Linked DNA regions of Homo sapiens. The protein of the gene in region 1 interacts with the protein of each later gene in a biochemical or structural test. Each region holds a gene or a part of one and is shown in the gene's direction. Other genes may lie near its edges.

Region 1 (3,751 bases):
TCCTATAGGATGGAGAGGGACAGATACAGAAAAAGATTCAGGGGGTTGTCTAAGGTCACAGGCTTGGTTAAGCGGTACCATTAGGAGTAGTAGGTATGTTTTTTGGCTCTTTCTACTTGTCCACCTTTGGACTTGTAGTGTGTGCTCAATTACAAATGCCTCTCAACTTATGATGAGGCTGTGTCCCAATAAACCCAATCGTAAGTTGAAAATACTGAAAGTAGAAGATGCATTTAATACACTTAACCTACTAAACATTATAGATTAGCCTAACCTACCTTAAACATGGTCGAAACACTCACATTAGCCTACTGTTGGACAAAATCATCTGACACAAAGCCCATTTGATAATAAAGTGTTGAATAGCTCATGTAATTTATTGAATACTGTATTAAAAGTGAAAAATGAAATGGTTGTATGGGTACTTGAAGTACAGTTTTTATTGAATGCCTAATGCTTTTGCACCATCGTAAAGTTGAAAAATCATTAAGTTGCAGACCATCTGTGCTTAAAAGCAAATAAATAGGTCATTTAACAAACATTTTAAAAGTGAAATCATGAGTTAATTTTCTTTTATCACTTGGTAATTGTCTGAACTAAGTGGCTAACTGCTCAGGACATAGCAGATGCACCATCAAGCTGGGCACTTCAAGCTGTCTTCTAGAAATGAATTTCTGTGCTTTTTAGCACTGCTTTTTGCTTGGGGGTGGGAAAGGGTGGTCTCCAGTAACTGCTAAGATGACACCTATACTGGCTGCTGTCCGAGCAGCCCTAGTGACTGTCTTGGGGGCAATCAGTTGCTTAATGGTTAATACAGAAGTACCTGAGTAATACTTTGCAAAAGGACTTTCCCCGACCTGTGCTGGGAGTGTCTCCCTGTAAACTTTGCCAACCTCCTGGTTGTTTTATCAGTGAGAGCATCATTTAAGTGAAAATATAAATTAAGGAGACAGGGCTCATAGGACGCACATTAAAACACCTGATCATTTTGAGCACCTGCTGTGTGCAAGGCACTGTTCTAGGCCAACAGTATAGATATACATTGCCTCCCATCTTTTAAGGCTGATAATGAAGAGAAGAACATGGAAGAGGAAGTTGTTGGGTTTTTTTTTTCCAGTCAGAAATACTGAAAGATTTCTTACAGCTGTCTGGTTTCCTGATACTTAAATTGTGAAACTTTAAGTTCACTCCATTATCATTTCTAAAATTTATTTTGAATAAGTTCCCTTTCGGGGGAGATACCCATGTGTAGAGAATGGTATGGAAATCTGCCAATGGAGGGATTAGAAATTTTGTCAGTTTAAAGACTTGGACCTTTTGAGATTTTTGTTGTTGTTGTTTTGTTTGTTCTTCTTTTCTGAGATGAAGGCTCACTCTGTCGCCCAGCCTGGAGTGCAGTGGTGCAATCTCAGCTCACGGCAATCTCCGCCTCCTGGGTTCAAGCAATCCTCCCTGCCTCAGCCTTCTGAGTAGTTGGGATTACTTACAAGCATGTGCCACCACACCCAGCTAATTTTTGTATTTCCTGTAGAAATGGGGTTTCATCATGTTGGCCAGGCTGGTCTTGAACTCCTGACCCCAAGTGATCTGCCCGTCTCGTCCTCACAAAATGCTGGGATTACAGGTGTGAGCCACTGCGCCTGGCCTTTCTGGGGTATATTTGGCTTAAGTTAGTTGGAAGGGCTCTCTTTATTTTTTATTCTGCCTCCCACTGAAGAGACAGAGTTCGCTCTTGTCACCCAGGCTGGAGTGCTTTGGCGTGATCCCAGTTCACTGCACCTCCATCTCCTGGATTCAAGTGATTCTCCTGCCTCAGCCTCCCTAGTAGCTGTGATTACAGGCGCCCGCCACCATGCCTGGCTAATTTTTGTATTTTTAGTAGAGATGGGTTTCACCATGTTGGCCAGGGTGGTCTTGAACTCCTGACCTTAGGTGAGCCCGCCTCGGCCTCCCAAAATGCTGGGATTACAGGTGTGAGCCACCGTGCCTGGCCCTGTCTTGTAATTTAGAAGAGCAAGTTTAAATACTTGGGATGATGTATTAAAAAGCCTCATCCATGCTGACAAGAGCAGGGCCTGTAGTAGCCTTTGTTGTTTATCCCCTTCATCCTGTTCTGTACTTCATTTTCTCTCATTACTGAATTAGCTGGCAGCATTCCTTATTTGCCACAGAGCTATTTCTTAAAAGCTGTACTTACACTCAGGATACAGTTTTCCTTGGTATAGAACTCTTCCATGGCATTGCTCTTTCACTGAGCTTTATTAACCCTCAGGCTTCCAGTACCCCTTCTTCTGCTCTCCCCACTTCATTCCCTATCATCTTACAAAGGCTTCTTCAACCAGGAATTGGCATGAGCTGACCGTGTATGGGAAGAGATTGTCAGTTAACCTCATTATTGTAAATGCTCAGTGTTCAGAATGCTGCTACTTAAATGACATCCTATAGAACTGCATGAATCGGGATACATTTAAATAATCCAGTTAAGTGGCTGTTTCTTGATGGTTGAGGCTCTGCTTTTGGGTTGTAGAACACTGGGAAGAAGTCTTCACAGCTCAGATAGTTTTTTAGTTGGTCTCATTTCCTTTCTACAGTCCATGCTTCAGGCAAAGTTACATATTGCCTGCCTGCCCACACCTTTCTGTGAGCATCTGAAATCTTGCTCACTCCTCTTTATTGACACCAGACCATACTGGTTGGAAGCTTCTTTCCAGTCCCCGCTTTCCTCCCTCCATTGGTAAAACATCTGGTGGGGAGGTCTTCGTGTGGTCTTTGGGCCTACCCTTGGGCGCTGGTACAGTGAGACTGGAGAGATGGGTGTGTATTCATTCTGCCTCCCACTGAAGCAATGACGTCTTCTTGGTGTTTGGGTCTCTGGGTGCCCCCACTCTTCCTGTAAATGTTAACCCCCACGGAGGTGAGGGGAATGGAGAAGCTTATCTCAGAGAGGCTCTCTGGAGAGGGAGGACCACTTCTGCTTTCCAGGGGGAAGCTGTGTCACGGAGAGCAGAACTGTAGCCCGATGCTGGAGAGAAAAGGCCCCAGAGGAGGCAGGCAAGGAAGTGATACTTCCTCCACCCCAGGCCCCTGGGTCATTTGCCTGCAGCCCCACCTTCCTTACCACCCAATGCTGCGTTTTCCTCGGGGTTCTTTCTACCCTCTGCTGCCCTCTGCATTTTCGGTTTGCCCTTAAGTGAGGGGTGGGGCGGGGTGGGAGAGAGGAGCAGTCTAGAGTCTTAAGGGCAGAGCCTGCTTTGCGAAGCCCACCCTGGCCATGCCTGACTTTTTCAGCAACGGAAAAATGTACATTTTGAAATTCCCCGTCATGGAAAGTGTTATGAAACTCTTGGGTAGACGTTTCGAAATCTTTTAATGTTCAGGCTACATAATAATTTTTAAATACTAACTATAATAATTCAGGACTATTTTAAAAATTGTTAAATTCCTTGTTAAATTCTTGGGATAGAACAGTGGCTGTCAAACATCTTTTTTTTTTTTTTTTTGAGATGGAGTCTCGCTCTGTCGCCCAGGCTGTAGTACAATGGTGCAATCTCCACTCACTGCAACCCCTCCTCCCAGGTTCAAGCGATTCTGCTGCCTCAGCCTCCCGAGTAGCTGGGATTACAGGCATGCACCAATGCACCACCATGCCCGGCTAATTTTTGTATTTTTAGTAGAGACAGGGTTTCATCATGTTGGCCAGCCTGGTCTCGAACACCTGACCTCAGGTGATCTGCCTGCCTCGGCCTCCCAA
Region 2 (3,751 bases), on another chromosome or scaffold:
AATCGCTGGAACCGGGGAGGTGGAAGTTGCAGTGAGCTGAGATGGTGCCACTGCACTCCAGCCTGGTGACAGAGCGAGACTCCATCTCAAAAAAAAAATAACCTGCTCTTTATGTGCTGTTGAGTGAGTGCTTAATTTTAAAATACATACCATGCTCCTCTCCCATTTCTCATTCTGTGGAAATGAAATCTATGTTTAGGGAATCCTGGAGTACCACAGAAAGGCTGTAGATAACTAGCCAGCTTGATGTTTCATGTAAATAATGTGCAATATGAATCTGTAAATTCATTTTCCAGAGGGGTGCAGAGAGAGGCCCACCTTCTTTTGGCCTTTCTCTTCGGACTCAAAGTAAGCTATTAGGTGGAGGAGATGCATTATTGCAATACCACACAGTTTGCCATGCCTTTATTTTATGAGTGGCAATGGCACAGATAGGAATGTCAGCCCAGATGTGGATTAAATTTAAAGATAAGTATGTTGGCTGGGTGCGGTGGCTCACGCCTGTAATCCCAGCACTTTGGGAGGCCGAGGTGGGCAGATTACAAGGTCAGGAGATCGAGACCATCCTGGCGAACACGGTGAAACCCCGTCGCTACTGAAAATACAAAAAAAAATTAGTTGGGCGTGGTGGTGGGCGCCTATAGTCCCAGCTACTCAGGAGGCTGAGGCAGGAGAATGGCGTGAACCCGGGGGGCAGAGCTTGCAGTGAGCCGAGATCACACCACTGCACTCCAGCCTGGTCGTCAGCGAGACTCCATCTAAATAAAAAAGATTGTATGTTGAAGAACCAAGGGGTAGAAGTTACAGAGATGCTCCGATCGTTCAGCATGTGGAAGAACTATCAGATAGCTAGAACTGTCCAAACAGCAACAAACTTCCCCTTAAGAGTAGTGAGATCCCTGTTAATATTCAGAAGGTGATTAGAAAATGCTGGTTAGAGATGATATAGAAAGTTTTACTTTTTATAAAAAAAAAATCTCTAAAATATATTAGACTAAGTAAGATCTGTCAGAGTTCCTGCTTAGACTTTGTTTAATCCAAAAGGAGTATAGGATTGAGCAGGATGTTTCATGAGCTTTAGTCTAGTATGGAAAAGTAGATGTTTTTCTGTGGGATTCCATAATGCCCCTTGAGCTTTTTTGTTTGTTTGTTATTCCTTTGGAATGTTTTCTTGTCATTAAAGTACAAAATCAACAGGTGTATAGTTTTATGTCAATTTTATTGCAGTATAATTTACATATAATAAAATCTACACATTTACGTATATAGTTTTGGCAAATATATGTGTAACCACCACCATAATCAAGATAGAGAAGATTTCTCTCACTCCAAAAAGTTGCCTCGTAGCCCTTTGCAGCAGCCCACTCCCAGGCCCAGGCAGCCAGTAAATATTTTCTTCACTGTAGATTGGTTTTGCTCTCAGATTAATGTTTAAAAATTGGACACCAGGTCGGGCGTGCTGGGTCACGCCTGTAATCCCAGCACTTTGGGAGGCCGAGGCGGGCTGATCACCTGAGGTCCGGAGTTCAAGACCAGCCTGACCAACATGGAGAAACCCTGTCTCTACTAAAAATACAAAATTAGCCAGGCGTGGTGGCGCATGCCTGTAATCCCAGCTACTCCGGAGGCTGAGGCAGGAGAATGGCTTGAACCCGGGAGGCAGAAGTTGCTGTGAGCTGAGATCGAGCCATTACACTCCAGCCTGGGCAACAAGAGTGAAACTCTGTCTCAAAAAAAAAAAAAAAAAAAAATTGCACACCAAACATGGACATACCACATTTTTTCCCCCTCAAAAAAGGGTAAAATATCTATTGCCATCTTTTATCATTTCCATTTCCTAAAAGGGATTTTTTTAAAAATGTTTTTTATTTTTGAGACAGAGTCTTACTCTGTCACCCAGGCTGCAGTGCAGTGGCACCATCTCAGCTCATTGCAAACTCTGCCTCAAGTGATTCTTGTGCCTCAGCCTCCCGAGTAGCTGTGATTACAGGCACCTGCCACCACGCCTGGCTAATTTTTGTATTTTTAGTAGAGATGGGGTTTTGCCATGTTGGCCAGGCTGGTCTCAAACTCCTGATCTCATGTGTTCCTCCTAAAAGGGCATTTTAATATGAAATAAGAAAGTGAGCTATGTAACTTTAGGATAAATTAAATTGATATGTTTTACTTTATGTAAAACTCACAACACCATCCTTGGCTGATGTAGGATGGTGAAAACTTTGTTATGGAGCAGTGTTTGGGAACCATCGTAGATGACTGGAAAGGTCTCTTCAAACCGTAAGATTTCAACATCATGAAATAGGTTGTCTGGAAAGGAGAACAGGCTAGAAGTTAGGAATCTTTCCCAAAAGCCATTTTTTTAAGGCTGGAATAGAAAAAGCTAACCACTCTTGGGCCTCACCTCTTGTCTTCTCTCTCCAATCTCTCCCCTCTCCTCATCGTGAACTGTAGAAGAAGCGTGTGGAGGGCCCTGGCTCCCTGGGCCTGGAGGAATCAGGGAGCAGGCGCATGCAGAACTTTGCCTTCAGCGGAGGACTCTACGGGGGCCTGCCCCCCACACACAGTGAAGCAGGCTCCCAGCCACATGGCATCCATGGGACAGCACTCATCGGTGGCTTGCCCATGCCATACCCAAACCTTGCCCCTGATGTGGACTTGACTCCTGTTGTGCCGTCAGCAGTGAACATGAACCCTGCACCAAACCCTGCAGTCTATAACCCTGAAGCTGTAAATGAACCCAAGAAGAAGAAATATGCAAAAGAGGCTTGGCCAGGCAAGAAGCCCACACCTTCCTTGCTGATTTGATATTTTTGGTCATGGAGAAGGGTGGGATTGGGTGGGAATGGGGTGGAAGGGTGATGGGGAGCTAATGAACTAGGGAGAAAAACTTTCCATGTGTGCGGTATCGTCTTTCAGAATGTCTCCTGGCATCCTAACCATGTAATATGACAATTGGGGGTGGGGTTGAAATAGCCCATAAAGACCTGTCTTCACAACACTTGCATTGTAGAGAAAGGCTTCTTATATCCTTTTCAATAGACTGCCCTGGCTCTTTCCTAGGCCTTCCACTACCTCCTTTCTTTCTCCCACTTTCTAGGATCATTTTTATGTAAAGTCACATATCCCAGGCCCTCAGGTTGAATCCAGAGCTGTAGAGGTTACAGTAGCATCACCAGCCTTGGGGGTCCAGAGCCTAATTTATATTCACTATCCTTCCAAGTCCCGGGTAGCAGAAGGGTTGCCATAGATCTCAGTTTGATCAAAAAGAAGGCTTAGAATTCTGCAGTTAAGCTGAGGTTTAAACTAAAAAATGTTTCCTTGGGTCAGTGGTTTTGAGGTCCAGTAGCTAGGCTTTTCTCTTTTGTCCTTCCTGTTGGAATGAAAACATTTCGATTTTCCTTCATCTGTGACTGGTGCCATAGACACAGGTTTATAGTTTTAACTTACAGTATTGTTTGAAATTTACCTGTTTTTCTTGTCAAACCTGAGCACTCCTCCTGCTGAAGTTTCTTATTTAATTCCAGAGTACTGTCCTCTACTCTAAGGCATTACTTTTAAGTGTATTATGAAGGCAGTTTTCAAAGGATATGACCAGTTGGGGTAATTCAAATTAAAAAGGAAAAGATTTGTTTGGAAGTAACTGGTGTCTCTAAGAGGAATTTTTAGATGTCAGTTTGGAGGCTCTTTCCCCCCTCAATTGAGAGCTCTTGTTATTCAGAGCTCCAAGACTAGACCTGGCTAACAAACATAG
Region 3 (3,751 bases), on another chromosome or scaffold:
GGACACTCCTAGAAATCTACTCTCAAGTAGCTTTTCTCATGGACTTAAGTCCCCATCGGTGACACGGAGGGAAAAGAACTTCAGAACCAACTGTTGGCCCTGAAAAGACCTCAAAGAGGGTGCAATCCAGTTGATTTTTACATTGAAAGGTCACAGTTCCCCCTCTGAGAGTCTGACGGATTGTACAACCCCTCCCCAGGAACCTGTATACACAGTCACCACCCATGAAGCAGTCTCAGGCTAAGAACTCTATTATGGACCGTAGCCCAATCTGTTCATTTTACAGATGAGGCAACTGAGTCCACAGGAGAGCAGAACGTGACGTGCGTAGAACACAAAGTTAGTTAGAGGCAGACCTAGGACCCAGGTAACCAGACCCTCAGTCACGTGGGCCTTCTGGTAAGAGGCCACCTCTAGTGCCTTCAGAAGGCAGAAACAAACTGTCCCTTGACCTATTGGGATTCTGGTAAAAGAAAGTATTTAATTGGAAAAAAAACAAAAAAAAGATTTAGCTAAGTTTATGCTTTCTACCTGAAAATGAAGGAATTTGACAGATTTCTCTGGTACAAAGGGAAAATAGCCCAGAGTTTCCGCTGGAATGTTTCTGTTTACTCACAGAGGCAGAATCCTTGCCATGCAGCCTCTCTTGTGCTGTGCCTGAGGCTAGTCTTCGATCCTCTCTGTAAACTGAGGGCTTCCATTCACTAGTGGCTATAGAGCTTGGCAGCTCCGTTATGTGCCCAGCTCTTTGCAAGGGCATACTGGGAAATGAGTGGAGATAAAGGACCCAATCATAAGCATTTTACAGTATGGATACCCCATTTTAAAAAGGTAAACTGAGGCACAATGCAATTTTTTTTTTTTTTTAAGGAGTTTATTTGAGCAAACAGTGATTCATGAATCAGGCAGCACCAAACCAGAAGGAGGCTTTGCTGAAGAAGGATGAGGGACAAGCATTTATAAAGTGAATGTAGATGTAATACAAAGAAAATATTTGAACCGGGTGCGGTGGCTTACACTTGTAATCCCAACACTTTGGGAGGCCAAGGCGGGCAGATCACAAGATCAAGAGATCGAGACCATCCTGGTCAACATGGTGAAACCCCATCTCTACTAAAAAATACAAAAATTAGCTGGGCGTGGTGGTGCGTGCCTGTAGTCCCAGCTACTTGGGCGGCTGAGGCAGGAGAATTGCTTGAACCCGGGAGGTGGAGGTTGCAGTAAGCCGAGATTGCACCATTGCACTACTCCAGCCTGGTGACAGAGAGAGACTCCATCTCAAAAAAAAAAAAAAAAAAAAAAAAAAAAAAAGAAAATATTTGATGGGTTACAGTTATAACCGATCTCATTTAGTCTATCTTGCTGGAAAGCTCCTAGTTATATAATTATGAGTTGGCTGGCTACTTCTGATTGGTTGGGCTTAAGTTCTGTTTTTCTTTAATACAGGCATTTACAAGAAATAGCCCAAGTTAACTTTTGCTTATGCTGCAAATCAAGTAAGGTTTAGGTCACTGATGAGGCCCAACTGGTTTTGTCTGCTCAGGGATTCTTCAGGCCTGGTCTCCATTTTAATTTACTTTAACACACATATGGCAGAATATAATTAGCAACAACATCATGCATACAAATTTAGGAGCCAAATGATTGGGAGAAAATAATTGTTCTAGAAGCAGAGAGGAAAATTCTGTCATTTGAGAAAGGTTGATGGGGTAAAGAGCTGGTGTAAAGTCAGGAATGATGGGCCTAGGGTAGACAGGGTGAGGAAAGGGTCAGCAGCCTGGAGGGAGGCCACGTGCCTGCGGACCTCCATGCTGAGGCTCTTGATCTGAAGCAGCATTCCTCTGGGGCTCTGCCCACCTGCTCCTAAAGTTATAAGAACCCTGACAGGGCAGGACAAAGTCTTTTTTTGGAGTTGGGAAGGCACCCAATGCTCACTTTGCCCCTCTGTTGTTGATGTTTTTAATATTCCTCAAGTCAAAAACAAACACAGGACTCTCTCAACAGAACAACGTAAAGACAGTCTGCCTGAGGCCACCCAAAGCTGTCAGGATTTCTAGGACACTGGAACATTTCTTTCCTCAAAAAGTGGCCACTTCCCATTGCTTTTTCCCACACTGCCCTTGAGTGTTGAGGTCTGGGCTCATTGACTCACCCCCTGGACTTTGGCATGACCATGATGAGCGCTCATCACTGCTGCTGATGGTGCCGCCTTTGCTTGGGAGGTCATTCTGATGCTCATTCACCTTCATGGACTGCTTCAAAGGCAAGCATCCAGCACCTCGGGCTTACTTTCCCTGAGATCCAAGAAGAAGCAAAAATAAAATACAATAAAAAATCTAAAATTTAGAGATTCTTTCCAAGAGAACAGCTTCAAACTCAGTGTCAGATTTCATGAATAATGGATGTGTTGATACACTCAACTTTCAGCAAAAAGAACAGCACAGCCTCTGACGGTCCCCTCCTCGACACAACTTAATCTGCCTTCCACTTAACAGGCTTTGTTTATCTGTTTTTCCCCTTAGCCGGGCCTTCAACGCTGCACCAGGTTATAATGAGAGGACATTTTTTGAGCACAGGCACCCTTGAACAGAAATGGCAATTAACTAGTATCATCACAAATGCTCCAGGCCTTTAGTCTTTCTCATGGTGATGCCTGGAGCAAAAAATGTGTTTACTCAAGACAGAGCCTATTCCGGTACCTTCTATTCCAGCATCCTTCCCCTTTCTTCTCTCTCTGTTGTGCAGAAAGGTGTTGTGTAAAAAGGTGGTCCGAAGACCTTCACCAAGGTCTCAAGTCCATGACTTGCTGCCCCTGTGGTACAGTGCTCCCTGACCTCAGATTCCTCATCTGTAAAATGGGAGTAACCATCTTCAGGCTGCCTGGTCCCGGGTTATACTGTTGTGAGGCTTGGCAGGGAGAGAGTAGGCACAGGCACATCGAGGGCCACAGAGCCTCTACAAACTGCACTGTCCCTATCACTGTGTGGGCAGGAAGAAGACGATTATGAAAGTCCCAATGATGACCAGGATGGGGAGGATGATGGAGACTATGAGTCCCCCAATGAGGAGGAAGAGGCACCCGTGGAAGATGACGCGGATTATGAGCCGCCACCCTCCAATGACGAGGAAGCTCTGCAGAACTCCATCCTGCCTGCCAAGCCTTTCCCCAACTCCAACTCCATGTACATCGGTAAGGGCCCGTTTCCGGATTTTCTGGCCCGAGCAGCCCAAAGGCAAGCTCGCCACTGCTGCATGGAAGGCTGATGCCCCAGCTTGCCCATGTAGCAGAAAGCTCTGGGTCTCGATATCTGCTCGGCTTCTTAACAGCTATGTGGCTTTGTACAAGTAACTCTGTCTCTCTGGGCCTCAATTTCCTCATCTGTGAAATAGGATAATAAATGTACAGACCACATAGGTTTCCTGTGAGGACTACTAAGACTGCAACCAATTCTTGCCTATGGTGGCTGATATCAGCATTGAACTACCACCTAAGGCTATTTGGCAGTTTCAACTCATTCTGCAGTTTACTCAGGTACTCCAAGAGTACTTTCCTGTTCCTCCCCATCTTTTGACCAAATTATAGTTACATGGCATTATTATGCTAGAATAAACATGAAGATATTGAGTAGGGTTTGACTATAACTTTAAAAAATATTAGATGGTGTTTACGATTTTTATTGTCTATCTGTCCTTTTAGCCCACTTCTCTCTCCATTCATTCAACAAACATTGTTGATCTGCTGGGAGCCCAG

The links.
Region 2: of the proteins of LYN (region 1) and PPP1R8, one has a biochemical effect on the other in vitro, tested with the Homo sapiens proteins (one study listed by BioGRID).
Region 3: the proteins of LYN (region 1) and LCP2 form a complex in vitro, tested with the Homo sapiens proteins (one study listed by BioGRID).

What each region holds. Positions count from the first base shown.
Region 1 is NC_000008.11:55,882,759-55,886,509, forward strand, and holds part of LYN (tyrosine-protein kinase Lyn), read left to right. Parts: intron 1-3,751. UniProt on the Homo sapiens protein: Non-receptor tyrosine-protein kinase that transmits signals from cell surface receptors and plays an important role in the regulation of innate and adaptive immune responses, hematopoiesis, responses to growth factors and cytokines, integrin signaling, but also responses to DNA damage and genotoxic agents.
Region 2 is NC_000001.11:27,847,642-27,851,392, forward strand, and holds part of PPP1R8 (nuclear inhibitor of protein phosphatase 1), read left to right. Parts: intron 1-2,451; coding exon 2,452-2,805; 3' UTR 2,806-3,751. UniProt on the Homo sapiens protein: Inhibitor subunit of the major nuclear protein phosphatase-1 (PP-1). It has RNA-binding activity but does not cleave RNA and may target PP-1 to RNA-associated substrates. May also be involved in pre-mRNA splicing.
Region 3 is NC_000005.10:170,270,158-170,273,908, reverse strand, and holds part of LCP2 (lymphocyte cytosolic protein 2), read left to right. Parts: intron 1-2,991; coding exon 2,992-3,190; intron 3,191-3,751. UniProt on the Homo sapiens protein: Adapter protein primarily involved in signaling pathways within T-cells, as well as other immune cells such as platelets, mast cells, and natural killer (NK) cells.